Homo sapiens: one gene and its partners. The protein of the gene in region 1 purifies or fractionates together with the protein of each later gene. This does not show direct contact. Each region holds a gene or a part of one and is shown in the gene's direction. Other genes may lie near its edges. The genes, in order: KANSL1, ZNF609, KAT14, DUS2, YEATS2, THSD4 and ECI2.

Region 1 (4,129 bases):
TGCAGCTCAGAAGTTTTTCTTATGGTTAAGAAACCTCACCATACTAGTGGTTGTTGAGAGAGAAGAGGGCAGAAGGGACCTTGTGCAGCACCAGCATTTAAGGGTCCAGGAGGAAGAGAAGAGGATGATAGTACAAGGACATCAGGAAAGAATTAGAAGAAGGTCGGTATTGTCCAGTGCTTCAGAGAAGTCAGATAGAATGGGGACTGAGGTTTGACCATTGGATTTGATAATAAGATTACTGGTCACCTTTGCCAGAGCAGTAGGGGGTGAAATCCAGATTATGGAAGAGTGAAGAGTGCAGAGACAGTTATTTATACTATTCTTAGAGAAGTTTTGGGGTAAAGGGAAAGAGAGATATTTGGGCAATTAAGTATGAGAGAGAGGCTGTACTGAGGGCAGAAGATACTTGAGTAAATTCCTAGGCTGAGAGGAAGAAGCCAGTAGAGAAGATATTGATGACCACTTTGATCTGAAAGAAAAGAAAACTGATGAAACAAGTTGGTATTACAGATGTGGTACAGTTAGCTTTGTAGTATAATCTATACTTCTAGAGAAGTGAGAAGCTGATGAAAACTGGATTCCCTGGCCAGAAAAATGCACAGACCTGTGATATTTGGCATACTTTTTTTAGTGAACACGGGAATTCCTTACTAATTTTTTTCTGTTTAATTATTGCTTAGTTTGATGTGTCTTGCTTTAAATCCATTTATTTCAACAAGCTTAAAGAGATTTTTTTTTAATGGAGATGATTTAATTTTAACAATCTGTGATTTTCTCTGAATCGAACTTGTGTTTTGGCACCTTTCAATCTGTGGTAACAAATGACAAGAAGGGTGCAATTCTTCCTTCCCTTGTGCAGGGATTTTGCCTCCCCCTTTCTCCCAGATGAAAGATATTTGGGTCTCTAGAATAACTGTGGTACAGTTAGCTCCAGAGTGTTTTCTTTCTGGAGGCAGTTTAGACAACAGCCTCAAGTAGTGCTTTTGTTAAAAATATACATGTTTTTAAAAGTGCTTGTATTTCTAATATTCTTTTCTCCTTTCTCTTCTAGTCTGTTCTCTGGGGAGGCAGTAAGGGGCCGTGGAGCTGGCCTCGGCCTCGGCATCGGGAGAGGCTGGACTTCCTGTCTCTCTGTGCTGAATGGCTGCGATGGCGCCCGCTCTCACTGACGCAGCAGCTGAAGCACACCATATCCGGTTCAAACTGGCTCCCCCATCCTCTACCTTGTCCCCTGGCAGTGCCGAAAATAACGGCAACGCCAACATCCTTATTGCTGCCAACGGAACCAAAAGAAAAGCCATTGCTGCAGAGGATCCCAGCCTAGATTTCCGAAATAATCCTACCAAGGAAGACTTGGGAAAGCTGCAACCACTGGTGGCATCTTATCTCTGCTCTGATGTAACATCTGTTCCCTCAAAGGAGTCTTTGAAGTTGCAAGGGGTCTTCAGCAAGCAGACAGTCCTTAAATCTCATCCTCTCTTATCTCAGTCCTATGAACTCCGAGCTGAGCTGTTGGGGAGACAGCCAGTTTTGGAGTTTTCCTTAGAAAATCTTAGAACCATGAATACGAGTGGTCAGACAGCTCTGCCACAAGCACCTGTAAATGGGTTGGCTAAGAAATTGACTAAAAGTTCAACACATTCTGATCATGACAATTCCACTTCCCTCAATGGGGGAAAACGGGCTCTCACTTCATCTGCTCTTCATGGGGGTGAAATGGGAGGATCTGAATCTGGGGACTTGAAGGGGGGTATGACCAATTGCACTCTTCCACATAGAAGCCTTGATGTAGAACACACAACTTTGTATAGCAATAATAGCACTGCAAACAAATCCTCTGTCAATTCCATGGAACAGCCGGCACTTCAAGGAAGCAGTAGATTATCACCTGGTACAGACTCCAGCTCTAACTTGGGGGGTGTCAAATTGGAGGGTAAAAAGTCTCCCCTGTCTTCCATTCTTTTCAGTGCTTTAGATTCTGACACAAGGATAACAGCTTTACTGCGGCGACAGGCTGACATTGAGAGCCGTGCCCGCAGATTACAAAAGCGCTTACAGGTTGTGCAAGCCAAGCAGGTTGAGAGGCATATACAACATCAGCTGGGTGGATTTTTGGAGAAGACTTTGAGCAAACTGCCAAACTTGGAATCCTTGAGACCACGGAGCCAGTTGATGCTGACTCGAAAGGCTGAAGCTGCCTTGAGAAAAGCTGCCAGTGAGACCACCACTTCAGAGGGACTTAGCAACTTTCTGAAAAGCAATTCAATTTCAGAAGAATTGGAGAGATTTACAGCTAGTGGCATAGCCAACTTGAGGTGCAGTGAACAGGCATTTGATTCAGATGTCACTGACAGTAGTTCAGGAGGGGAGTCTGATATTGAAGAGGAAGAACTGACCAGAGCTGATCCCGAGCAGCGTCATGTACCCCTGTGAGTAGACCTCATGCATGATAGCATTCTTGAGAAATGTTGGCACAAGGAAGAATGAATGAATCGCCATTATGGAGAGAATGTGATTCTTTGTACATAGGTGTCTAGGTTCTGTTTGTTTTTTCCCTGATGTTGGGTAGATGAGTGCATATACATGCTAGTGAAGAAGGGGAAGATACTTTTGCTGTAGGGTTGTATTGTTGTAGTCTAAATGGTGGTAATTTCCTTTTGAAGTCTAAGAAAAATAACTAGGAGACATCTTATGTGTAAAATTGTACTAGTACCTCTTTAAGAGTGAATTTAGATTTCTTTTGAAACTATATATAGGACATGATAAGTTAATGGCCTGATTGTTGAGATTTTGTTGTTTCCAGTAAGCAGGGACAAATGCTGAGTTGACCTAGTTACCTTTGTAGGAAATTACAGTTGCTTTTGATTGAACTTTCAGCAGAGAGCACACCCAGTCTTCAATTTTAACACTTGAGATTTTCTTACATTTTAAGGACTGACAATTAGAAAATGCTTCAGAATATTTAATACATCGCCTCCAAGCACAGTCTAGTTTCACAACCTGACTCTCTTCCTATTAAAAAAAAAAAAAAGCCCATTTTAAGCAGATTTGTTAAGCTGAGTTAAATGTATTGATGTATTTGGAATAAATTCTTACTGGGTTGTTTTTTTTGTTGTTTTTTGTTTTGTTTTGTTTTGAGACAGTTCCGCTCTGTCGCCCAGGCTGGAGTGCAGGAGTGCAGTAGTGCGATCTCAGCTCACTGAAGCCTCTGGCTCCTGGGTTCAGGTGATTCTCGGGCCTCAGCCTCCCTAAGTAGCTGGGATTACAGGTACCCGCCACCAAGTCAGGCTAATTTTTTTCTTTTTTCTTTTCTTAAGTAGAGACTGAGTTTCACCGTGTCGACCAGGCTGGCCTCAAACTCCTGACCTCGTGATCCGCCCACCTCATCTTACTGGTTTTTCTAAATCTGTTGGTTTGAGAAAATTTTACATAAGCTTTTTATGGGTGGCACTCCAAATTGGCATGGTGGAGACAGAGACGTTTCATTCCTGTCACTCCCAATTCAGCATCTATGTACTTAATTAAATAAAGCAGTACTATATTATAACATACTTAAAGATACATGTTAAATAAGTGCATTTATCTCCTTAGGAATATCAGATTTGAGAGAGAGCATGAGGAGTTGGAAAAGAGGGGCAGGATAATTGACTAGCAGATCTTTCATTTTCTCTTTGCTAGAGGCTGGCTTACTAGAGAAGGCTGAAAAAGATGAATATGTGGGAAGAATTGGTGTTTCCTTGACTGTATTAAAAGGTGATGAAGATTTTCACTGGAGTGTTTGGTTGTTGAGACAGCTATGATTTTTAAAAGTAAATTTTCTGGTTTCCCAATTTTGTTTATATTATCTGCATGGATATTGTATCTGAAATGAAACTTTTTTTTTCTATTTTGAAGGAAGAAATGGATAATTTTTGCTGAATTTCTTCCTTGTAGACCTAGTTCTATTATCATTTGTTAGTTCACTGTGCTCAAGTCCACTTCTGTATTTAGATTTAAAGCAAATGCTTCAGAGGCTTGCTTCTTCCGTAACCCATCTTTCTTTAAATGGATTAGTAGCTTAATTCAGCTTGCTAATATTCATGGCATTATCCCCACTAACTTTGCTGTTTAAATCACCGCTTTAAAA
Region 2 (4,129 bases), on another chromosome or scaffold:
GTATGTTCAGCTAAGAATACATCCTGGTGCCAGGGAGTTTTGTCCCTTAATAATGTTGCTTTGCCATATAAGCTTTGCCTCCCAGGGAGACTCTGAGAATGGGGCAGCAGAATGAGAAAGAAAAGGGAAAGAGACTGTGCTTCAGTTTTTGAAAGATAGAGAAAATTGCTGGCAATTACTTTTAGAAGCAGAAAATTTGCTATACAGTTTCATGTAACCATAAGCAAGAACCTGCTTTCTCAATTCCTTCCCCTGTTCCCTCAACCCTTTTGGACAGTCTGGTCCTGAGGGTGCCTTTCCATATTACCTTTGGCTATTGAAATAAATAATTATTTAAATAAATGTTTGGAAGTTGCTAGGAGATTAAAACATGCTGTGCAGGGAGAGAACATTTCTGGACTGGGAGGAGCAGAAGAGGCAAGTTAAAGGAAAGGAAGTTAGGAACCATGCAGAGGAGCGGTTTTTGAGAAACAACAATCTCCGGTTTGGGGCATAATAGGTGCTCAGTGAGTATTTGATGATTAGTACTATAATTTATAAGCAAAGTCTTTGAAAACTTCTTTAAAATTTTCTCTCTGAGAAATGGGCTTGCCTGTGGTTTGGGACGTTTCTATGTAGGGATAACAAACAGAACCAAAATAGCAAAACAGATGTTTTGATATAATCTAAGAATTGCATCCTCTCAACTGGGAACTGTCATGAAGAGGAAGAACTCATAAAATTTGGGAAGTTTCTTGACTGAATTCTGTGGTGCAGAGTAGCAGTGTTGACTACTAGCCAATGAGGAAGATTTGAATATTGAAATTACTGGCTGGGCCTGGTGATTCATGCCTGTAATCCCAGCACTTTGGGAGGCCTAGGTGGGCAGATTGCTTAAGCTCAGGAGTTTGAGACCAGCCTAGGCAACATGGTGAAACCCTGTCTCTACAAAAATTAGCCGGGCATTGGTGGTGTGCACCCGTAATCCCAGCTACTGGGGAGGCTGAGGTGGAAGGATAGCTTGAGCCTGCGAGGTGGAGGTTGCATTGAGCTGAGACGGCACCACTGGACTCCAGCCTAGGCAATAGAGCCAGACCTTGTCTCAAAAAAAAAAAAAAAGAAAGAGAGAAATTATCTATCTCATGTTCTTCTTTGTGAAGGTAGATATCTCAGGCTATGGCCTGGGAAATTTTCTGTCAGACAAGGATGTGGATTTCCCTTCATGGGATCCCACTTTTGCTCGACCATACCTTCCTCTGACAGAGTGAGCTCTGTGCTGTTTCCCAGAGTTCTAGGAGAGACCAGAGATGGCTCTTAGCAACTGCTGCTGCTCTGAATTGTTATTGAACACTTCTGCCTCATACTTCCTGCCAGCTGAAGAGATGGGGGAGGGAATGTTGAGGAATAAACAAGACAGAGCCTTCCAGCTCTTGCCTGTTCCCTTGCCTTTAGTTTGATTGATGGATTGTTAAGTTAGGGATGGAAGGGGAGGTAGGGAGGAGGGCAGGCGCCTGTCTGAGTGTCCTGAGCTTAGTGCTTATGTCGCCACTCTGACAGGCAAGAAAAAAGGAATTTACAAACCACAGATGGCAACGATCTATCTGTGCTGACTTTGTCAGGGCTTACGACCAGGAGTTTAAGGTGAGACTCCTTCTTTTCCCCCAAATCATATAAAATAGCCAAGTAGGCTCTAGTAGTTAAAGAAAGGATCTAGAAGTTTCTAACCAGAAGCTCCCCCTCACATGTCTTTAGCTGCTGCTTTTGATCTTGCAAGGTAGGAACACTGCACTTTGCTTTTCCCGTGTTTGAATGTCAGCTTCTGCTGCTTTCAGAATGCTGCATATATTTACCACTTCCCCCATTAGTTTAGGATACAAAGAAAACCATAAAGTGTGCTCTTTGCTCTTTCAACTTCTGATCATGCATGCTATCATATCCTGTGTTCTTAAGAGCATCTTCCTTTGCCATTGGTTTTGTATTCCTGCCCTAATTTGTGCCTTCTAGCTTAGTTCTCTTGTATTGTAGTCCCTCATTGCCTAACCAAGGTCAGGTCTCTTTTATTCCTTCTGATCCAAGGCTTTCTTAACGCCTTCTTCCACTAGCTGTTATTTCTCAGCTATTGATGGCAGAGCAGTCAGCTTTGCTTCCTGAAACCAAATGCCCTCAAGATTTTCCTTCATGGAAAACATTAAAAAGAAGTTGATATTTATGTGGGACAGAGTTGCATTCTGTAACTACAAGCTTAATTTATTTTTTCATTCAGAAACTCTGTTTTCCTTCTAGGTGTTGTAATTCAAGGCAGTTCCAGAGAAAGATTATCTTGTCCAATTTCCTCATTTTATAGAAGAAACTAAGACCAGTGAAGTCCTGTGACTTGCCCAGCATCTCACAGGTAGTCACTGGCAAAGCCAGATTTGTAGACACCAAATTCTTATGGCATGTTGTTACTCTGGGATTCTTAACAAATCTTTAACTGTCAGGAAGGATTCTCAATTTTCCCACTTTATTTGTTATTTTCTTAGTATTATTATTTTCGAGATGGAGACTCACTCTGTCACCCAGGCTGGAGTGCAGTGGCACGATCTCGGCTCATTGCAGCCTCTGCCTCTGATTCAAGCGATTCTCCTGCCTTAGCTCCCCGAGTAGCTGGGATTACAAGTGCATACCACCATGCCTGGCTAGTTTTTTTTTTTTTTTTTTAATTTTAGTAGGGATAGGGGTTCACCATGTTGGCCAGGCTGGTCTCAAATTCCTGACTTCAAGTGATCCACCTGCTTCGGCCTCCCAGAGTGCTGAGATTACAGGCATGAGCCACCACACCCAGCCTATTTGCTTATTTTTAAGGCAGGGTCTCGCTATGTTGCCAATGCTGATCTTGAACTCCTGGGCTTATGCACTTCTGCCTTGGCCTCACTTATGCACTTCTGCCTTGGTCTCACTTATGCACTTCTGCCTTGGCCTCGCAAGTAGCTGGGACTACAAGTGTGTGCCACCACACCCAGCCATTTTTTCAATGTAAAGACTACCTTGAAACATTAGATGAAAATGCTTACATACTCCAAAATTGCTTTTACCCCAAAACTGCTTTCACTTGTTTTTCACAGTGACTTTAACATTGTAGACACTCAATAAACAAAGGATCTTTGAGTTTAGGATTTTAGGTAAGGTAATGAATGATGTTTGCAAAGAATAACCATTACAGCTGGCACTGAACCTATCCTGTTATTTATAAAGAAGGAAAGTTACTTTAAAACTGCTACTTTGAGCTTGACTACTTATGATATATGTGTGTGTGTTCTGGAATATTTCATCCAGCCAAATTTTCATTATAATAATTGAGGAATAGTTCTTTCTTTACTTGGCAATTGCAGGTAAGAAAAAAAACCCTGTTCTAGTGCTTCTTCCTTGGACACATCACTAATAGGCAGACCTTCAAATGTATTGTGGATATTACTAAGTATTTTGTAGAGAAGATATACTGTTGGCTAATTGTTATCACTTTTCATTCAGTCAGTACATTAATTGAATGCATTTTAGATACTAGGTTTTCTACTTGGTATTGGGTATACACTGGTAAATAAAACAGAGATGGTCTCTGCTTTTTGAGGAGCTTACAGTTTACCGTCTACAGCAGAGTTCCTAAAAGTGTGTCCCATAAAACCATGTACATCACCAGAGTATCAAAAATGCACATTCTTGGACCCTACCCTAGATATGCCGAATAAGTTTTTGGGGTAAGGGCCCAGAAATCTGTACTTCCAGAAGTCTCTCCAGATAATTGCTATATACATCAAAGTTTGAGAATTTTCCTTTCAAGGTAAGTATTCGGGGCCACTTCTCATTTAAAACACCAGCCTTCTAAACTTGAATTTCACATCAACTCTTATGTATAATTTAGTGGCTAAAAGCGTAAACTCTAGCCAGGCCTCCTGGCTTGAGCCTGGGAGGTTGAGGCTGCAGTAGTGAGCTGTGATCGCACTAGTGCACTCCAGCCTGGGCAACAGAGTGAGACTCCGTCTCAAAAAAATAATAATAATAAATTTTTTAAAAAGTGTGAACTCTGGAGCCAGACTACCTGGCTTTGTTTCCTACCTTTGCACTTATTTACTGAGTGATCTTGACCAAGTTTCTTAATTGTTCTTCCTCAGTT
Region 3 (4,129 bases), on another chromosome or scaffold:
TATGTCTCTAAATGATATACTTTTCGTTTAAAAAAATACTGAGTAGCAAGCATAAATCTAGCTGTGTAAGTAAATTGCCACTATTAGATGAAGTTTCCTGGAGAAGATAAGCTAAATAGTCATTCTGGGTCATTGTTGTGGACTGAATTGTGTCCCCCTTAAGCATATGTTGAAGTCCCAACCCTGGTACCTATGAATGCAGCCTTATCTGGAAATAGGCCCTTTGCAAATATAATTAGCCAAGACCACCAAGGATTGCCGGCAGCACCAGGAGCTAAGAGAAGGGCACAGAACAAATTCTCCCCTAGTGCGTACCCCAGAGAGCATAGCCCTGCCCACACTGTGACTTCTGACATTTGGCCTCTAGAACTGTGAGACAATAAATTCCTGTTGTTTTAAGCCACCCAGTTTGTGGTGCTTTGTTCCTACAGCCCTGGGAAACTAATACTTACAGTGATGTTCTGGCTTCGGCTTCCATGAACCCCTTCTGAGGTAGTCACTGGCCAAGGTCACTAGGGAGTCCTGGGAAACATGAGGCTCACCATAGCGTATGCATCAGCCAGGGCTGTGATGTATACCAGAGATGCGGCAGAAATCTGGGCAGAGGAAGTGGGATCCTCTGTATTTCCTGCCTGAGCTGACAGCTTCCTTCCAGCTTGCAGAAGGTCAAAGCAGTTATTTGTGGAGTGAGCATCATCAGCTGGTCTTTGGGGTGGGCATGGGTGGTGTACAGGAGGCTCACCTGTACATGGTGAAGACAAGCTGAGCGTAGATAAGATTCTGGGCCACGACGCCATAGGTTTAAAAGATGGTCAGTGGCAGCAAGGACTTAAGGATGATAGCCTCAATATGTGTTAGAAATACCAAAATTGTTAGAAATAGATAATCGGTGCTGCGAAGAAAAGTCAGCACAGAGACAAAAGGTATCTCAGCAAGGCCATCTTTTCTTTCTGTAGAAAGGGTGCTCAGTTGCAGATGGAACAAAGGTGAGAGCACACTTGAACACAGGAAAAGCAGACATATTTATCCCTTACGCACTTGGGTCGTCCTTACTGCTGTGTCCTGCATCCACTGGCTGGAGCGGGACCTCACAATCTTAAACTGATACCCGATTTGCTAATAGCCTAAAACTTTCCTAAATAGGTAAGTGCAGGGAAGAACAAAGAAGTTGCTTACAAAAGGTTTAAGGAAGCAATAACATTTCCAAATAAGGAAGGGGCGTAGACTGTGGGCTGGAACGTGCCTGTGAGCATGTCCAACGGTTACAGAGGATAGGGCTTAACAAAGAGTTATTAGCACAAGGCAAGGAGACTTGAAGAAAGTTAGTCTTTAAAAGAAACTGTTATTTCTAACACTTATGATTTATTCTTTAACAAGAAGGAAAACTTTGAAGAGGAAACTTTTTACTTTCTACACTATGTCTGCCCCTTGGGTCACACTTGTTCACCCTTTGTTGTGAAACTCAGCAGGGGTGTTGGGATCTCCCCTCTCTGGAGATTCTTTTGCCCTCCTCTGTATTTGATCTCCTGTTTCCTGTGGCCCATCTTTACCTTGTTATAGGTTTATTCCCTTGTTCTTAATGACTTCCTGAGAAAAGCTGCATGGGAAGTAAAATTTGAGACCAACATACTGAAAAGACCCTCATTAAGTGAGGTTGAACCTGGAATTCCATACACAGCCACATTGTCTAGGTGAGACCTCTGTTGAGGACCACTGCACTTCCTTTAGGTTTTTTCTTTGAATCTAGTCAGAGTCCCTGGGGAATAATCTTCTGGGCTCAGGATGCTGGTTGCCAAGTTGGGGAAGAGGGACCTTAGCATTCAGCTTGTCAGGTACTCACACCTCAGCCCTCCAGCTGGATCCCCTGTTAGTTCTCTAGAGATCAGACCTCCTGGCTTCTGGGGGAGGGCAGCCACCCAGCAACAGGGAGTGGAAGGATCTGGGGATCATACTGCTTTCCACATGGTGTTTGCCTGCTCCTTATTTTATTGTCCCATTTGGTCCCAGTTCCAGAGGAATCTGCTGGCTGCTGCCTGGATTTTAGCGGGTTCTGTAGTATAGATTGGGTTAGTTCTCATTTAGCTTACCCAAAGCCACTTTGGGATTTTGGTGTTAAATCAGTTACTATTTGTCCATCTGTTTACCAGTTACTGTTCTAATTAAGTCAGCTTCTATAGTTTTAGTGGGATTTTGGGAAGTAGTAAAGCTTTATATGCTTGTGTTTTAACCCAGTCTTAACTTGGAATTTTAGTATAAATTTTAATGTATTTACACAGGGAGTGGCTGTAAATGCATTTATTCAATCCATACTCTTGTTTTATATTTATTCTTTGAATGTATTCGTAGCTATAAGTTTCTCAATAAGTGCTGCTTTAGCTGTGATTCTTGACTTTTGAAATGATGTGATTTTATTTCCAATCAGTACTTGGCATTTTGTTATTTTTCTCATTATTTCCTCTTTAATCCAAAGGTTATTTAGTTGTTTTTTGGTTTTCAGATATATGAGAATTTTAAGCTATGTTTTGGTAATTGATGTGATTTCTAATGTTGTATTATGATCAGAGAAAATAGTTTATGTGATGTTCATTCTGTACCATAAAGAAAGTTATACATTCTATTTTTATTCTTTTTATAGGTCCTAACTTAAGATACATTTATTTTTCCTTATTCTTTTTTTAATATCATGTGGTTGTCCCCCCAAACAAAAAAGTACATTTTCATGCACTTATCTCTTTTTTTCTTTTGTATTGCTTATTTAAATGACATAAATCTTTACTAAATTATTCACTCGTCCTATTGTTTCTTTCTAGATTAATTTCTTGCTGGACTGCTTTCTCTAACAGTTCTTTAAAAATATGGGCTTTTTGAGGTTAATTTTGAAAACTTATACGACTAAGAATATCTTCATTTCACTTTTTCATTTAAATGATAGCAGTCATATAAAATTGTTATTTTAGTTTTTTCCATTGATATTTTGAAATTATGACTTCATTATCATCTTACATACAGTGTCACTCCTGAGAACCCCGGTACTGATAAGAAATAGAAATTTTTGACTGGGCTCAGTGGCTCATGCCTGTAATCCCAGCACTTTGGGAGGTCGAGGCAGGCAGATCACTTGAGGCCAGGAATTTGAGACCAGCCTGGACAATATGGTGAAACCCCGTCTCTACTAAAAATAAAAAAATTAGCCAGGCCTGGTGGCGCATGCCTATAATCCCAGCTGCTTGGGAGGCTGAGGCTTGAGAATCACTTGAACCAGAGAGGCAGAGGTTACAGTGAGCTGAGATCATGCCACTGCACTCCAGCGTGGGTGATTGGGTGAGACTCTCTCTCAAAAAAAAAAAATTTTTTTTGTTTCTTATCAATTAAGTGGCCTCCTTGTTTTATTCTCCCATCTCCTAAAACTTTCAGAATTTTCTCTTTGTTTTTTATCTTTAATTAGTGCATGTTAAGTGTCTTTTATTTTCTCTTTTTAAAGCTTTGTTTTCTTTTTTCTATTATTTTATTTTCCAGCACATCCAAAACACAGAAATTGTGTTTGTTCTCATTTGTCTTACTTGACAACTCTGTTCTTTTGGTCAGAGGTATTTTATATGCTTCTTGGCATTTATTCTGCTTGGTGTTCGCTGACCTTCCTGAATGTGTGGTTTGGTGTCTGACATTAAATTGGGGATATTCTCAGTCATTATTGCTTCAAATTTTTCTTCTATTCCTTTCTGTCTTCTGGTATTCCCATTGTGTGTTTATTACACCTTTTGTAGTTTTCCGCAGTTCTCGGATAGTCTGTTTTGTTCTTTTTTTTCATCTTTTTTGTCTTTGCTTTTCAGTTTTGGAAGTTTTTACTGACAGATCCTCAAGTTCAGAGATTCTTTACTCAGCCGTGTCCAGTCTACAAATAAGCCCATCATCAAAGGCAACCTTTATATTGGTTACAGTGTTTTTTATCTCCAGCATTTCTTTTTGATTCATTTTCAGAGTTTTCATCTCTTTAATTGCCCATCTGTTCTTGCATATTGTGTATTTTGTCCATTAAGCCCTTAACATATTAAACATATTATAGGCATATCTTGTTTTATTCACATTGCTGTATTGCACTTCACAGATACTGCATTTTGTACAAATGGAA
Region 4 (4,129 bases), on another chromosome or scaffold:
CAAAAGTTTAAAAAAAAAAGGCCAGGCCTGGTGGCTCATGCCTGTAATCCCAGCACTTTGGGAGGCTGAGGTGGTCAGATCACCTGAGGTCAGGAGTTTGAGACCAGCCTAACCAACATGGTGAAACCTTGTCTCTACTAAAATTACAAGCAATTAGCTGGGCGTGGTGGTGTGTGCCTGTAATCCCAGCTACTTGGGAGGCTAAGGCAGGAGAATCGCTTGAACCTGGGAGACGGAGGTTGCAGTGAGCAAGATCATGCCACTGCACTGCAGCCTGGGTGACAAGAGCGAAAATCTGTCTCAAAAAAAAAAAAAAAAAAAAAGTGGATGCAGTGTAAATGTTCCCATTGTCGTATCAGAAGAGATCAGACTATGGTAGCCCAGAGAAGGGAGTGGAAAGGCAGCCTTTAAACTTGGAATTTGATAGGGAAATATTGTCCTTGGGCTGAGATTTAGGACCCTGTAAGCAGAGGGTGTGGTATAAGCAGGGGCCTGGGGATGAATATGAGGTAGACACAGGGAGGCCTGAGTAGCCCGATTTGACCAGAGGTTTGTCGAGTGGGAGATGATGAAGAAGAAGCAGACTGCAGGATCGAAAACCTTGGTTGGTAAAAGATCAGCTGGACTTGGACTTTAGGTATCTTTGGGCTTTTTTTTTTTTTTGAGATGGAGTCTCACTCTTGTCGTGCAGGCTGGAGTGTAGCAGTGCAATCTCGGCTGACTGCAACCTCCGTCTCCTGGGTTCAAGCGATTCTCCTGCCTCAGCCTCCTGAGTAGCTGGGACTACAGGTGCCCGCCACCACACCCAACTAATTTTTTTTGTATTTTTAGTAGAGACGGGGTTTTGCCATGTTAGCCAGGCTGGTCTTGAACGCCTGACCTCGTGATCCACCTGCCTCGGCCTCCCAAAGTGCAGGGATTACAGGTGTGAGCCACTGTGCCCGGTGGTTTTGCTGTTTTCTGATTACTTCTTTGTGTTCCTAAATTATGTGAGGAGCAGAGTTAAAATGATCTGGAGGCAGGGTAAGGTGGTATATACCATTTATATAAGGAGGATAGGGAATGATTATATATATTTATTTGTTTATTCAGGGAAGATTTTTGGAGAGACACAGAAGAAACTAGTAACATTGATTTCCTCTGGGGAAGGAAACTTAAGTTTTTATCTGGTTATGCATAGGTAGTAAATTCCCATTACAGGGGTGCTACTGAAAATAATTAACTGGCACAGCACTGGCACTGATCAGTCAGAAGAGACACCAATCAATATGCCACACATGTACATACTAGCTGAATATCTGCTGTGTTCTCATGGTTCAAAAATTGAAGCCAGATAAAAAGCATAGATTGAGGCTGGGCTTGGTGGCCGATGCCTGTAATCCCAGCACTTTGGGAGGCTGAGGCGGGCAGATCACCTGAGGTCAGGAGTTCAAGACCAGTCTGGCCAAAAGAATGAAACCGCATGTCTACCAAAAAATATAAAAATTAGCCAGGTATGGTGGCAGACACCTGTAGTCCCAGCTACTTGGGAGGCTGAGGCAGGAGAATTGCATGAACCCCAGAGGCAGAGGTCGCAGTGAGCCAAGATCACGCCACTGCAGTCCACCCTGGGCCACAGAGTGAGACCCTATATGAGAAACAAAAGAAAAAAAAAAGTATAGATTGAAACATTTCCCATTCCTTAGGCAGGGAGACTTCTTACTCGTTACCCATTTGAATCTCTCAAATTTTGAATGTTTTACCTATTCAAAAAAGCAAGTAAGTTTAATAGAAACGAAGGAAGGAAGGAAATTCCATTGTTGAGAAAGCTATTATTGTGGAAGGGGCAGTGAAACTGAATTTTAGATCCTGTGATTCTATAAGGAAGGGCTGGATACGTGTGAGTGGAAGGACAGATGGAGCCAGGGGGAGTGCTGGGGCTTCCTCAAGGCCTTCAAGGTTTCTTTTATGACCAATGTAGTCCAGGCTTGGTGGATTTTCCAGTCTACCCATTCTTCTTTAAAATCCAGGCTCAGCCTGGCCGAGTCTGTGGTGGTTTAATGTTCTCTCTGATTCCAATTTATCATCCTTAAACATGAAATTAAAGTGTAATAACTGAACTTACACCTTCTGAGCACATTCTGTGAGCATTCATTAGTATGTAATCTTTATACTGGCAGCATATATTTATTGGAATTGTTTTTTTTGCCTTCATCTCACTCTTAATGGATTCAGATTTTTAAAGATCCCCCTCCTCCATTATTAAAGTAATTAATACCATTGTCTAGAAGTTGGAAAATATAGACAAGTACAGAAAAGAGCAGGAAAATCACCAGTAACTCACAATAAAAAGCAACCACCATTACTATTATCAAGATTCAAGTGGTTGTGTGGGTTGGTAGTTTCCATTTCCTGGGGCTTTGGTTAGAGTTGGGCATGGGTCTGGGCTGGGACATTGTTGCTGGCAGAAGAGAAGGGCCTAGACAAGGTTTGTAAGTTGTGTGCACCTTAGTAGCTTTGCTGGTGGTGTTGATGCCTATGCAAGCATTGAGTATGATAGGAAGAAGGCACATTTGATCTTATTTCAAATGAAGGATGATTCATTGTTTTTTAAGGGCTTGGGAGATGGTGGGATTTAGTTTATTAAGACACTGAGACCTGGGTTAGGGAGTGGGCAGTCTTGAAAAATAAGTTTTATATAGCCCACTCTAGATAGATTTGTGGGATTTACCAAGGGGATCAGAATGATGACTTTTTTGTTTGTTTGTTTGTTTGAGATGGAGTCTTGCCCTGTCAACCAGGCTAGGGTACAGTGGTGCAATCTCGGCTCACTGCAACCTCCACCTCCTGGGTTCAAGCAATTCTTCTGCCTCAGCCTCCTGAATAGCTGGGACTACAGGCACACACCTCCATGCTCGGCTAATTTTTGTATTTTTGGTAGAGACTGGATTTCACCATGTTAGCCAGGCTGGTCTCGAACTCCTGACCTCAGGTAATCCACCTGACTCAGCTTCCCAAAGTGCTGGAATTACAGGCGTGAGCCACCACGCCCAGCCTATACATTTTAAAAGTCATCACTCTGGTCTGGCCAGCCTGGCCAACATGGTGAAACCCTGTCTCTACTAAAAATATATTAAAAAATTAGCTAGGTGTGGTTGTGCATGCCTGCAATCCTGGCTACTCAGGATGCAGAGGAAGGAGAATCACTTGAACTGGGGAGGTGGAGGTTGCAGTGAGCCGAGATTGCGCCACTGCACTCCAGCCTGGGTGACAGAGCGAGAATCTGTCTCAAAAAAAAAAGAAAAAAAATTATCACACTTCAGTCCCAGATGTTATGGGCACAGATACTGCTGCCCTCCTACTTGTTTAAAAGAAGTGCCGGTTGCCAGTGGGCCTTGGTCCCTTGGAAGTGAGTGCCGGGGTGACGCTCAGTTGCCAGACCCCATCCCATGGAGAGGGCCATAGTGTCTCCCAGATGTAAGAAGACCTTTTGTGTGTTTCTCCTTAGGGAGGAATGGGAGCTGCCCTGCTGTCAGACCCTGACAAGATTGAGAAGGTAAGTCCTCCACGAGTGAAAGCAGGGGTCCTCAAACACAGCTCCAAACTAGAATTGTCTAGAACGCCTCCTTCCACCAATACCAGATTTACTGATGTCCACCCAGTTTCTCTCCCTGAGGCCTAGCGATTTCCAAAAAATTTTCCAGTGATTTTGACATGCAGCTAAGTTTGGGAACCCCCGAGCCAGCCTACAGCAGCCTTGATGTTCCTAAAAAGCCCAGAGCAAGAGACATGTCAATGAAGAGCCAGGGGTCCTGAGGACTCACAGAGAACCTCCTCTGTATTTCCTGTCTCCCTTCTGGGAAGGTCTTGAGAGCAGAGGCCAGCCCACCTGTGGTGAGGACGGGCTCAGTGGCCATATGTGTTTGTATGTGTGTGGGTGGATTGGCCTCTCCCAGGGGGCTTGATGAGAGGAGCAGTGGGTCCCCTATGTCCTGAAAGAGTCTACCCCAGCCCTTGGAGAGAAGCCCGGGCCAGGGTCAGAGGAGGCAAGCTGAAGTTAGTCTCTCTCTGTTCCCCTTTCTTTGGTGATTCTGTAGGCTAGCTTAATGAGGCCCTGGGGACAGGTTTGTGTTCCTCTCCCAGTCTGCCA
Region 5 (4,129 bases), on another chromosome or scaffold:
GCATCTTCCATTGTAGGCTACAGAACAGCTGGTGAATGATATCCTGAGACAGGCTTTGGCAGTTGGATACCAGACAGCTTCTCACAACAGGTATTACTATCTCTGCAGTCTGTGGTGTGAGGCTTACACCTCTTTCCTAACAGTTGAATTGCCCATGAAGGTGTTTTATACTTACATCAATCCAGTAGGAGATGGAGTGAGTGCTTAGGACACTCTTAGAGCCAGATGAGCTCAAGGGTCTGCTTTGTCATTTTTAGAGAACCTCATGGTTGTGAAAGCTCACTCAGCTTTGCTCAGAGGTTTATATCCTCCTCATTACTTCACAGACACCTAGGACTCTGTTTTATTACAGGGTTGAATAAATATTAGCTTTGCAATTAAAGATAACAGTGTCCATTACATGTCAGACACGAGGGCCAAGCGTTGCATATATTACCTAATTTGTTTTTCATTGCAGAACTATTATTCTCTTTTTAAAAATCAGGAAACCGGGCTTTGAAAGGTAATTTTACCCAGCTTACCCAGCAAATACAGTGTAGACCTGGACTTCCGACTCAGGTCTCATTGGCTCTGAGGCCCCTGGGCTCGCCACTGCTCTTTGCTGACTCGTTGTCTTTGATTAAGACACTGAGTTTCAGTCTGTTCCTAGGCCCTGAAAGGATGGTAGATAGGCCACATCTGCTTTTCTTTCGGAGGAAACAAATATTATTTTATTGCATTATGCTAAAGGCTGTCACAGATTTATAAAATTGTAGCAAAGTGCCTGAGGACATGAAGGGCCTAAATCAGAGGAATAGTAGATGAAACTTCACAGGAATATATCAGACAACATAGGCGTCTTTAGAGAAAAGGAAGGGGAACCAAGAGTTCCGGTCCTGCTGCCCACTGTCCTGCTTGGACCCACAAGTGAGCCAGGGCCTCCTGTGGCCCCTGCTTACCTCTGTGCTCCCTGTCCTGGAGGGGTAGAGTGACTTAGGTGCTTTTGATGGAACGATTAACATCACGCCTGGCCTGGCGTGGCTCCGTCTCCCGTCTTTCTAGGAGATGGGAAATAAGGTCCCAGAGTTTTGTGGTGCTTTGACTCAGCTTTCGGTCTGCTGAGACTCACTCACAAATGTGTCATTCCGTTCTGCCATCCGCTTTGTTTTCTTTCTCTTTTCTCAGTTCTCAGAATCTTTTTTCCTAATTATTCAACCAACTTGTTGACATCCTTCTCATGCCTATGACAGGAAGGCAGTCCTCACCCCAGAGTGGCCCTAAGCTATGTCTGTGGCTCAGGAGCCCTCTCCACGGGGCCTCTGCCTGGGATGGTCCCTGTGATGAGTTAAGTGAATAAATGATGAGATATACGTGAGAGAATTTCACCTGGTAACACCCTTTGTTTTTTGGACCAGGATTCCCAAAGAAATTACAGTGAGTAATATTCACCAGGCCATTTGCAACATTCCTTTTCTGGACTTCCTCACAAACAAACACATGGGAATATTGAATGAGGACCAGTGAGCGGAGTGAGGTGCCCTGGAGAAGCAGGCTTTGAAGGCACAGCGAAGCTGTAACTGAGGACCCTGCTGCTCGGGAAGGAGGTGGTTTCCAGTGTGACTCGGCATGTCATGGCTACCCAACCTTTGCCGCTGCCTGTTCCCACGTGTCACCAGCACGCTGCACTCCAGATGAAATCCTCCTAGGACAGGAGTTTGTTTCCTGAGTGTGGAGTGAGGCTGTCAGTGGATCCGTGCTTTGTCGGCCAGCGTTTCTGCAGTCTTTGTAAAGGCCCCACGAGAGCGGGCCAGGCCGTGTGCCTCAGGCCCTTCTCCCTGGGTGTGCTTAAGGGGGCTCCTTGGGCCCGCCTCCCCAGGAGGTAGAAAATGAGTGGCAGGCTAGAGATTTCACCCATTTTGTGGGCTGGAGTTACCAGTAGCTCCAGCAGTTACCCTGAAGAGAGATTGGGCTTCAGCCTTCAGCAGGTGGTTCTCTCCCATGCCTGGCCTTGGTGTGGAGGGGCTGTACTCTGAGCCCAAGTGAGTCAGCTATAGGAAGAGGCCATACCTAGAGCCAAGAACCATGAAGGCCTGAGAGACGGCAGACTGAGCAGAATTCCTTTTTTGAGCACGAGAGCATTACTAGAACCATTGTCAAAGCAGTGGCAAGGGACGGAGAGGTCCCAACAGGAGTCAGGAAGAGGTTTGATTATAACCAAGAAAACTCACTATGCTAGGAATAGACTGTGTGCACCAGTCCCAGACACTTGGCAGAAGTGTAGCAGCGTTACACATGTGTGCGAAGCAGATCGCAGGTTCCACGCCATCTGCATGGCCTGCAGGAGCTTCTGCTGCTGACCCCATGCTGAGTGGCCAGTGGGGAGCGGCGCCCGGCAGGCTCTTCTGGGGTCGTCTGTCCTATCCGTGGATTGTATATACTCTTCTCTGTTAAGGAGTTTTTCCCAAGAAGAAAAGTATTTAAAAGAAATACCAGTGAGTGCCTTAAAGTTGGAGAAGTAACTGCCCATGCCCAGAAATAAGGATGCCAGTGCCCAGAAGCAGTGAGATTAGTCTGTGTCCACAAGCAGAGGCCCCCTCGATGGGAGGGAGTGGCAGGCAGGAGAAGGTGGCGCTGCCAGGTGCCCGGGTCTATTGGAGGCGCCCCATCTCAGACTTCCTAACACAGCCTGTGTGGAAGGCAGAACAAAGAATGCATGCCCAGTCAGAAATCTGTTCTATTCTGCTCCAGGAAAATCGGAAACCTGTGAGTCAGAGTCAGAGAAACTTACCCAAGCAACGTAATTCCTGTTTTCATGGGTCCTGTAGATGTTTGAGTCAGGAAGGTAAGGCGGGGAGTGACTGAATAAACTCTGCCTTTTAAATTGAGCATCTGGGCCGGGCATGGTGGCTCACGCCTGTAATCCCAGCACTCTGGGAGGTCGAGGTGGGTGGGTCACCTGAGGTTGGGAGTTCGAGACCAGCCCGACCAACATGGTGAAACCCCGTCTCTACTAAAAATACAGAAAATTAGCTGGGCATGGTGGTGTGTGCCTGTAATTCCAGCTACTCGGGAGGCTGAGGCAGGAAGAATCACTTGAACCCAGGAGGCGGAGGTTGCAGTGTGCCAAGATCATACCACTGCACTCCAGCCCTGGTGACAGAGGAGACCCCGTCTCAAAAATTGATTGATCAATTCAGCATCTGAGGGCTGCAAGTACAGAAGGAATCTATTCTCAGCAGGGCATAGGGCACGCACTGGCTTAACAGTTTAGTATATAAGGCTCAAATAGTCTATACCTGAACTGCTATAAGCAAGGTCGATAGGGAAGTGGATAGATTGCTTCAGCAAAGTGAACTGTGAGATCTCCAGGACAGAGGGAGAAAGATCTGATCCAAATGAGAACAGATTGGTTATTGCAGGTATCACAGCCTAAAGAAATTATCTTTTTGCAAAAGAAATATTAAATGATTTAGCAGTCTCCACGTGTGTTAATGTTTCAAACGTGTATCATAATGTGTATAATTGTGTAACAAAATTGTCTACAATAAATCTTTTGGTATTTGTGGTGGGTGTTTCTGAGTTTGAAGCATGGTACTCAGGCAGGGTTCTCCCTGCACTGGGATGAGGTGATGGTGTAGAGTCTTATTGATATGTTTAAATTAATTCCTCTACTTCTTGCCAAAAAAAAAAAAATGTTGCAACCGTATAAGATAAAGGATTACAGTTACATAAAAGTCTAAAAAAAATTTGGAAATGGACATAATTATTCCTGACAGCTTGGGGCAAAAGAAAACTGCATAAATGAGCTCAGAGCTTCCTTAAAGCCAAGGCAGAGAGAGAATCAGCTCCTCGTGTCTAACAAAGAAACATACCGGGTTATCTGGCAGGGTAAAATTGGACTGTGTTGAGGACTGAAACAAGTCACTCCTGTGACACGGTCCTTATGCTGTGACCATCTGCTAGCATATGGCTCAGAAATAGTGAAAAATCCAGAAACGTAAGAGCTGAAAGATTTTGAAAGCTTTGGTTCTTCAAAGGCATTATGATACAGTCCAAGTATGTAACTTTCTGGGGACCAGACTTTGCTGAGAGTCATAATGGAGAGTCAAAGAGTCTGATGGCTGAGAGGGGTGTGCCTAGGCTTGCCTTC
Region 6 (4,129 bases), on another chromosome or scaffold:
AGCATTGGCATCTCCCAGGAGCTTGTTGGAAATGCAGACTCTCAGGCTGCACCCTAGATGTCCTAGATCCAGAATTTGCAACTTAACAAGATCCCAGGTGATGCCTGTGAACACTCAAGTTTGAGAAGTGCTATTCCACATGTCCATTTCTCTGTTACCTTCAGCTAGGGTCTCCATTCAGTACTTACTTTGAGGCTAAAATTTTTTGGTAGACTTTCAGATCTTAAAAAAACACACATACGCAGAAATTCTTTCCTTTGCCTTTGCATGATGTCATTCATTTTACCTGGCCTGCCACAAGAAAGAAAAAGGCAAATTATATCCAAGTTTTATATATATGTGTATACACACACACACACACACACACACACACACACACACACACATATATACATATATATGACTAACTTCTTAATTGCATCTCTTAAAACCCCCATCGTTAACAGAGTCCCAAGTGTTGCCAAGATTAATTGAGAAAGACCTAAATGCAAAATAAACACTGTGGCGTGGTTTAATTCCATATCAGCTAAGAATGAAGGTGCAATTAGTAATAAAGATGTTAATAATTAGTTGTGGTCTATTAAATTTTATGTTCAGTAATTATGTGGAGAGTGAAGAAAGAATTTTCTCATGAGGGCAGAAATCAATGTTTCACCTTGATTGCTATTTTAATGTGCTTATTTTAATGGGGCCATCCTGTAGAAACCCTTGGGCACATTTCCAATTTTACGTAAATGTAGAATTAATTATTATGGAAGCATATAATTTTAGAGTTGGAGCGACCTTGGCGGTCATTTAATCCAGCTCAGTCATCTTAAAAGTAAGTAAGAGTTAGTTGACTTACTTAAGTCCTTCCACAGAGATTTGGAACCTGCGCTCCTCAACTCTAATGCCAGTGAAGGCGAAACCTTTTCTGATCCCTTCAGACAGAAGTGCTTTTTCTTGCCTCAGAATTTCCCAAAGCAACATTTATTGTATGGCCTCTAAGGCCCTTACCCCGCCCTGCATTGTGATCTAGTTGCTTTCAGTTGTAAGGTTGGGGTCTTGAAAACTATGGATGATTAATTTTTGTATTTCTTCATCATTGCTAACTCTGTGTTTTGCAAAGAGTAGTTGCACAATAAATATTCATGCAGTGGTGTTCTGGAGCTGGTTTTTACCTGCTCACCAGAGCTCACTGTGTCTTCACATTGGTAGCTTGATATCAGCCATGATGGAAGTATTTACACCATAGGAGTGGGCAAATGCTACAAATCAGGGCTTCTACCCTGTCCTGCCCACGTCCCCCGCCCCACCCCACCTCAGGGCAGTGGGTCTTTACAAAAATCTAAAGATCTAAACCAGGCTTGTCCAACCCATGGCCCATGGGCGTCATGTGGCCCAGGATGGCTTTGAATGCAGCCCAACACAAATTCGTAAACTTTCTTAAAACATTATGAGATTTTTTTTTGCAATATATTTTTTTAGCTCATCAACTGTCATTAGTGTTACTGTATTTTATGTGTGACCCAAGACAATTCTTCTAAACCAATGTGAAGATGGCCATTTACCCATTGCTTTGCCTGGGCTACTTCAAGAGTGGTGAAGGAGCCAAGTATTTAACGCCCTTGAATATTTTCAGGATTAAAGTCAGTGCAAGTGAGGCCTTGGGACTGCACTAGAATTTGGTTGCTTATCTAAGTTCCATTACGTAGAAAAGCTCTTTGAGTATGAATAGTGAAGGAAACAGGGTCTGAAATATCACAGTTAGTTGAAGGAGCAAAAAATACATGATTAGAAAAAAAAAGTGAACAGGAAAGTTTCCTGTGGCTGAAATTGCAATCATATGTTTGTACTTCTCTGAAAACCTTCAGTGGCTCCCAGTGACCTACAAAAATGCCCAGACTCTTTGCATAAAAATTACACGCTGACCATAGTTTACTGTTCTAATCTCATTTCCAACCACTTGCATCATCCACTGTTCATCCTCTGTTGATTCCCTCTTTCATTCTACTTTCCAACTTCTGTGGAGCCTCTGTTCCAGCCTCCATGATGGTGCCTTCTAAAATGCGTTCCCCCTGCTTCCCAGTTCTACCATAGACCCTTTCCCAAGCTTCCGTTCCTACCTGGTCCTCTCTACCACGGACCAGAGCTTCTGAGTTAACATGAAATTCATCCGACTCTGATCATCTCCTCTCTTGTCTATCTCTCTTTAGGAGCAGGACCCGTGGTACCATTGGCCCTGGCAAGTATGGCTATGGTAAGGCCCCATATATCTTACCACTGCAGACAGACACTGCACACACGCCACAGAGGCTCCGGAGACAGAAGCTCTCATCCCGCCATTCCAGGTCCCAGGGAGCATCTTCTGCTAGGCATGGCTACAGTTCACCAGCCCACCAGGTCCCCCAACATGGGCCTTTGTACCAAAGTGACAGTGGCCCTCGCTCTGGACTGCAGGCTGCGGAGGCCCCCATCTACCAGCTACCTTTGACCCATGATCAAGGCTACCCTGCAGCTTCAAGTCTCTTTCACAGCCCAGAAACAAGCAACAACCACGGTGTGGGGACCCATGGGGCAACTCAGAGCTTCTCTCAGCCTGCCCGATCTACAGCAATCTCATGCATCGGGGCCTATCGGCAGTACAAGCTGTGCAACACCAACGTGAGTACACACAACCCATACCGGGCCTGGAAACAGCTGCCCCTCGTTTTTCTGTCATTTGGCACTAAGCATGATGAAGACAGCAAGGATATGGTGTCTGGGCCATGTTAACACACCTTTTAATCTTCCTCCTTTCTCTTTGCTTTCCATGTATTCTCCCTACATAGTTTTCTTTTTTTTTTTTTAAAGTTATTGCTTTAGTAACTTATACATTGCTTCTTGAATTGCTTATTGACAATCGCTTAATGGTGGTATTAATTATTAACAGCTATTGCTGCAAAACAACCTCCAAATTCTCAGTGACTTATATTAACAATATTTATTCTTTGCTCAAGTGCAATATATAAGTTTCCCAGAGGTTCTCTGCTATTCCAGGTGTAAACACTAGGTATTGTAGCATGAAGAAGTCTGAGAGTGAAGTTGTGAAGAGTCTTCTCTTAGGGGAAGAGCTGGGACAGCTAAGGTGATAGATGGCACACAGAGGCCTCTGGGCAGCAGTAAGTTCCTAACTGGTGTGGAAGTATGTTGTTATTTTAAGGACCTGTATAGCTGTACTCATGCATATATATACAGGTATACCCACTTTGGATATCAGTTCAATAAATATTTATTGATTTTATCTTCATGCATTTACATAATATCTACCATTATTAAAAACTCATAAGCCAGGCCTTGTGCTCAGCACTTTTTTTTTTTTTTTTTTTTTGAGATGGAGTCTCGCTCTGTCACCCAGGCTGGAGCACAGTGGCGCGATCTTGTCTCACTGCAACCTCTGCCTCCCAGGTTCAAGCAATTTTCCTGCCTCAGCCTCCCGAGTAGCTGGGACTACAGGTGCGCACCACTATACCCAGCTAATTTTTCTGTTTTTTTAGTAGAGACGGGGTTTCACTATGTTGGCCAGGATGGTTTCGATCTCTTGACCTTGTGATCTGCCTGCCTCTGCCTCCCAAAGTGCTGGGATTACAAGTGTGAGCCACCGCACCTGGCCTGTGCTCAGCACTTTTTCTACTAACTCCATTTCATCTCCTTAACCATGAGTTTGCTCTTCTCTTCATTTTATAGTTGCAAAGAGAGGTAAAATAACTTGCTGAAGATGCCACAGCTAGTGAGTAGTAGAACCAACTATCAATGTTAATTGTATATGGTGACCAAAGGAATTTTTTAAAATATCAGTTTAAAGACTGCGTATTAAAGAGAAGTGAATGAGAGGATGTTAAGAGGTTAAATTTCTGAGCCAGTATATTTTTCATTAATAATTTAATCTGCCTTAATACTCTGTTGCTGGGTAACAGGACAGCTGTTCTATATTAGCTTCAATTTCCTCATTAAAAATATATTTCCTGCTATAGAGTCCATAGAAATGACTTAATTTGTGATCTTAATAATTTCATTGAATGCCTGGGTTGCTTTTTAGCTTATTCTTCCACTGTCAGACTTCAGGAATCATTAATTTTAAAAAGCAGTAATTTTTCTAAGGCCATTGCTG
Region 7 (4,129 bases), on another chromosome or scaffold:
AAAATACAAAAATTAGCCAGGTGTGGTGGCAGGCGCCTGTAGTCCCAGCTACTTGGTAGGCTGAGGCAAGAGTAAGGCTGGGCAACAGAGTGAGACCCTGTCTATAAAAACAAACATTCTCCTCCAATGTGGCAAAAATAAGTTTTACAATCTAGGCTGGGCATGGTGGCTCATGCCTGTAATCTTAGCACTTTGGGAGGCCAAGGCAGGTGGATCACTTGAGGTCAGGAATTCGAGACCAGCCTGGCCAACATGGTGAAGCCCCGTCTCTACTAAAAATACAAAAATGAGCTGGGTGTGGTGGTGCACGCCTATAATCCCAACTGCTCGGGAGGCTGAGGCAGGAGAATCGCTTGAACCCGGGAGGCGGAGGTTGCAGCGAGTTGAGATTGCGCCACTGCACTCAAGGCTGGGCAACCGAGCAAGACTCCGTCTCAAAAAAAAAAAAAAGCAAAGAAGGATTGGTTCCCATTTTACAAATGAGAAAACTGTGGTACAGAGAGGGTAAGAAACTTTCCCAACGTCCCTAAGTAGTCTGACGCCAGAGCCTAAACCCTTAACTCCACCTGCTGCTCTCTTTCTGAAAATCAGCATTTTAAATGCTGCTTACTGGCAACTTTGCATGTACCTGTTTGTGTCCCTTTAGCTGTTGTTGGCAGGTTTCTCAGTTTCCTGCTTGTATTCCTTAGGCTGTGTCTTCTGGGTACATTTTTTTGAATAAGTTTTCTTTTGGATAAAAAAAGAAGATACATGACATTAACAGAAACTTTTAAAAATATTGTGATTATTTTTATGTATATGCTGCATATGTTATAGATTTATATCTTCTAACAGTTATATAGTAAAAACAACAGCGTGTCTGATTATAGGAAATGAAATCTAAATATTCTTTTACATATTATGAATTTTAAATTAACATTCTTTCATAATTTATTCATTAAGAAACACAAAAATATGTCTTAAATGTAAAAAAAAAAAAAACTAAAAATGACTATATACTAAATAACCAATATTGAATTAATTCCAGTAGTTAAAGCCAACCAAAAAAACCACTGGGGCAAAATCAAGACAAATGACAGATTGAGGAAACAATTTTTCAACTCATGTAACAAAAGCTGATCTCTCCACGATACTTTTTAAAGTTTGTCTATAAAGCGATAGATCCACAAGCTAAAATAAAAATGGGCAATGGTGAGGAATGAATAGGTCAGACAAAATGAAATATAAAGGGCTATTAAAACCATATGAGAGAAACCACTGAGAAAATGAAAAGATAAGCCATAGACCAGGAGAAAAGATTTGCCTGACGCTCTAATAAAAGACTTGCAATCTGAATGTGTATCTTACAACTATATAATAGGAAGGTAAACAGCCTAACTTAAAAAAATAGTGGAGAAAATATCTTAACAGTTGCTTCACCAAAGAAAATATACGTATGTCTAATAAGTACATGGTAAGAGACTTAATACCATTAATGGTTAGGGACATGTAAATTAAAACCACAGTGAGACCCCACTACATACATACTAGCATGGTTAAAATGAAAAAGACTTAATAGCTAGGTTTAGTGAGGATGTGGAGCAATTGGAACTTTCATACATTGCTGGTGGGAATGTCAAATGGTACAACCACTCTAGAAAACAGTCTAGCAGCTTCTGAGCTAAATATACATTTACCACACAGACCAGCCATACCACTTAGGTATTTACCTATGATAATTTAAAAGAGATTCACCCAGTGACCTGTACACAAGTGTTCCTAACTGCCTTTTTGTTAACATTATCTGAACATTTTTATTTTTAAATTTTTTTTCAGTTTCATTGAGGTATACTTGACAAATAAGAATTGTACAGTCAGGTGCTGCATAACAACATTTTAGTCAATGGCAGACTGCATGTAAAACGCTGGTCTCCTAAGATTATAACACCATATCTTACTATACCTTTTCTTTTTTTTTTTTCACTCTGTCATCCAGGCTGGAGTACAGTGGCATGATCTCGGCTCACTGCAGCCTCCTCCTCCCGGGTTCAAGCAATTCTTGTGCCTCAGCCTCCCGAGTAGCTGGGACTCCAGGTGCACACCACCACACCAGGCTAATTTTTGTATTTTTAGTAGAGATGGGGTTTCACTACGTTGGCCAGGCTGGTCTCGAACTGCTGACCTCAGGTGATTTGCCCACCTCTGCCTCCCAAAGTGTTGGGATTACAGGCATGAGCCACCACACCCGGCCTACCTTTTCTATGTTTGATATATTTAGATACACAAATGCCATTTGTTATAACTGCCTAGAGTATTAAGTATAGTAACATGCTGTCCAAGTTGGTAGCCTGGAAGCAGTAGGGATTACCACATAGCTAGGTGTGCAGTAGGCTGTGGCATCCAAGTATATGTAAGTATACTCCATGATATTGGCACAATGACAAAATTGCCTAATTATGCATTTCTCAGAACATATCCCCATTGTTAAGCAACACACGACTAGATATATTTAAGGTGTTCAACTTGTTTTTCATAGCAGCCTTCTTCATAGTAGCCTTTCATACGTTGCTAGTGGCAGTGTCAAATGGTACAACCATTTGAATGCTAGAAACAACACCAATGGCATTAACTGGTGAATGATAAACATATTATTGTGCATCCATACAAAGGAATACTACTCAGAAATAGCGAGGAACAAACTACTAATACATACAACAGCATGGTGACTCTCAGAAGTCAGACTCAAAATGCTACAGAATGTAGGATTCCACTTATACAGCATTCTATAAAAGTCAAAACTGTAGGGACAGAAAACAGATTAGCAGTTGCTTGGGGGTGGGAGGGAGGGACTGACTACAGAAGGGCCCCCGGAACCTTTCAGGGTGGCTGAAATGTTCCGCATGTCAGTAGTGGTGGTGGCTATGTAACTCTCTATTTGTTCAAACTCATCCAACTATACACTTTTAAAGGGTGAATTGTGTGTGCATATTAACCACATAATCTTAATTTTTAAATAAATATTATTAAGTATTGTGAAGTTATAAGCAAATCGTGATTTTTAAAAATAACACATGAAGCCAGGCATGGTGGCTCACGCCTGTGATCCTAGCACTTTGGGAGGCCGAGGCAGGTGGATCACCTGAGGTAAGAAGTTTGAAACCAACCTGGCCAACAGGGCGAAACCCCGTCTCTACGAAAAATACAAAAATTAGCCAGGCATGGCAGCGCATGCCTGTAATCGTAGCTGCTGTGGAGGCTGAGGCAGGAGAATCGCTTGAACCCAAGGGGTGGAGGTTGCAGTGAGCCGAGATCGCGCCACTTCACTGCAGCCTGGGCAAAAGAGCGAAACCCTTTGTCTCAAAAAAAAAAAAAAAAATCACACATGAAAAGATGGTTTTCTTTTCTCTCCTGCCTCTGCAGGCAACATTTCATACACCATTTAGTCACCTAGGCCAAAGTCCGGAAGGATGCTCCTCTTACACTTTTCCGAAGATAATGAGCCCAGCCAAGGTAACTTTTGGAATGTTTAAATATAAAATTTTATGAGTCATCTCAAGAAAGAAGGAAGAGTAATCTCATATACTCTCCCTTCTTTCCCTTGGTAATATGGACAAAAGAGAAGCTAATGATTTGCTTTTCAACTCTTTAAGAGTTTTACCAATGGAGGAATCAGGCTATGGGAAGTATCTGCTATGCAGGAAAATTAGAAATTCTCTCTGCAGTTCCCAGAACTGGGATCCTCCTCTTCAGCTGGCTGCTTAGTGCTAGCTGCACTGCAAGCAGCACAGCACCTCAGCCTTGCAGCTGTGTGGCATTAGTCACTTGAAGGACCAGGGCTGTGCCAGCCTCCCTTGGTCCCCTGAGTTTGGAGGCCACTCGGTTCCTTTATGGATGACCAGTATCTCCTAAGGAGAGACATGATGACGTCTTCACTTTCAGAGTTACAGTAAGTACCAACAGATGGGAGGTTTTGTGGGGGCTCACGGCTGCCAGAGCCACCCCCAATCACAGCAGCCCTTCCATCAGCCTGCTCACGGGTGTATTCTCTCCCAGGCTGGTTAAGTGGCTGCTCAGGTCTTTCACTGTGTTTCCTAGTTGCCCACGCCCTGTGGCATGACTCGAAGGGGATTGTGACAAGACCAGAAGCTGA

Evidence for each region.
Region 2: the proteins of KANSL1 (region 1) and ZNF609 purify together in Homo sapiens (affinity purification with mass spectrometry, with the first as the bait; one large-scale study listed by BioGRID). This does not show direct contact.
Region 3: the proteins of KANSL1 (region 1) and KAT14 purify together in Homo sapiens (affinity purification with mass spectrometry, with the first as the bait; one large-scale study listed by BioGRID). This does not show direct contact.
Region 4: the proteins of KANSL1 (region 1) and DUS2 purify together in Homo sapiens (affinity purification with mass spectrometry; 2 studies listed by BioGRID and IntAct, with this or other methods). This does not show direct contact.
Region 5: the proteins of KANSL1 (region 1) and YEATS2 purify together in Homo sapiens (affinity purification with mass spectrometry, with the first as the bait; one large-scale study listed by BioGRID). This does not show direct contact.
Region 6: the proteins of KANSL1 (region 1) and THSD4 purify together in Homo sapiens (affinity purification with mass spectrometry; one large-scale study listed by BioGRID and IntAct). This does not show direct contact.
Region 7: the proteins of KANSL1 (region 1) and ECI2 purify together in Homo sapiens (affinity purification with mass spectrometry; 2 studies listed by BioGRID and IntAct, with this or other methods). This does not show direct contact.

The regions. Positions count from the first base shown.
Region 1 is NC_000017.11:46,169,158-46,173,286, reverse strand, and holds part of KANSL1 (KAT8 regulatory NSL complex subunit 1), read left to right. Parts: intron 1-1,054; 5' UTR 1,055-1,143; coding exon 1,144-2,432; intron 2,433-4,129. UniProt on the Homo sapiens protein: Non-catalytic component of the NSL histone acetyltransferase complex, a multiprotein complex that mediates histone H4 acetylation at 'Lys-5'- and 'Lys-8' (H4K5ac and H4K8ac) at transcription start sites and promotes transcription initiation.
Region 2 is NC_000015.10:64,501,976-64,506,104, forward strand, and holds part of ZNF609 (zinc finger protein 609), read left to right. Parts: intron 1-4,129. UniProt on the Homo sapiens protein: Transcription factor, which activates RAG1, and possibly RAG2, transcription. Through the regulation of RAG1/2 expression, may regulate thymocyte maturation.
Region 3 is NC_000020.11:18,165,192-18,169,320, forward strand, and holds part of KAT14 (cysteine-rich protein 2-binding protein), read left to right. Parts: intron 1-4,129. UniProt on the Homo sapiens protein: Component of the ATAC complex, a complex with histone acetyltransferase activity on histones H3 and H4. May function as a scaffold for the ATAC complex to promote ATAC complex stability. Has also weak histone acetyltransferase activity toward histone H4.
Region 4 is NC_000016.10:68,057,579-68,061,707, forward strand, and holds part of DUS2 (tRNA-dihydrouridine(20) synthase [NAD(P)+]-like), read left to right. Parts: intron 1-3,487; coding exon 3,488-3,535; intron 3,536-4,129. UniProt on the Homo sapiens protein: Catalyzes the NADPH-dependent synthesis of dihydrouridine, a modified base found in the D-loop of most tRNAs. Specifically modifies U20 in cytoplasmic tRNAs. Activity depends on the presence of guanosine at position 19 in the tRNA substrate.
Region 5 is NC_000003.12:183,809,081-183,813,209, forward strand, and holds the end of YEATS2 (YEATS domain-containing protein 2), read left to right. Parts: intron 1-16; coding exon 17-90; intron 91-938; exon of another isoform or gene 939-1,371; intron 1,372-1,394; coding exon 1,395-1,503; 3' UTR 1,504-3,544; downstream 3,545-4,129. UniProt on the Homo sapiens protein: Chromatin reader component of the ATAC complex, a complex with histone acetyltransferase activity on histones H3 and H4. YEATS2 specifically recognizes and binds histone H3 crotonylated at 'Lys-27' (H3K27cr).
Region 6 is NC_000015.10:71,240,454-71,244,582, forward strand, and holds part of THSD4 (thrombospondin type-1 domain-containing protein 4 isoform 1 precursor), read left to right. Parts: intron 1-2,195; coding exon 2,196-2,643; intron 2,644-4,129. UniProt on the Homo sapiens protein: Promotes FBN1 matrix assembly.
Region 7 is NC_000006.12:4,118,546-4,122,674, reverse strand, and holds part of ECI2 (enoyl-CoA delta isomerase 2), read left to right. Parts: intron 1-628; exon of another isoform or gene 629-726; intron 727-3,399; coding exon 3,400-3,489; intron 3,490-4,129. UniProt on the Homo sapiens protein: Able to isomerize both 3-cis and 3-trans double bonds into the 2-trans form in a range of enoyl-CoA species. Has a preference for 3-trans substrates.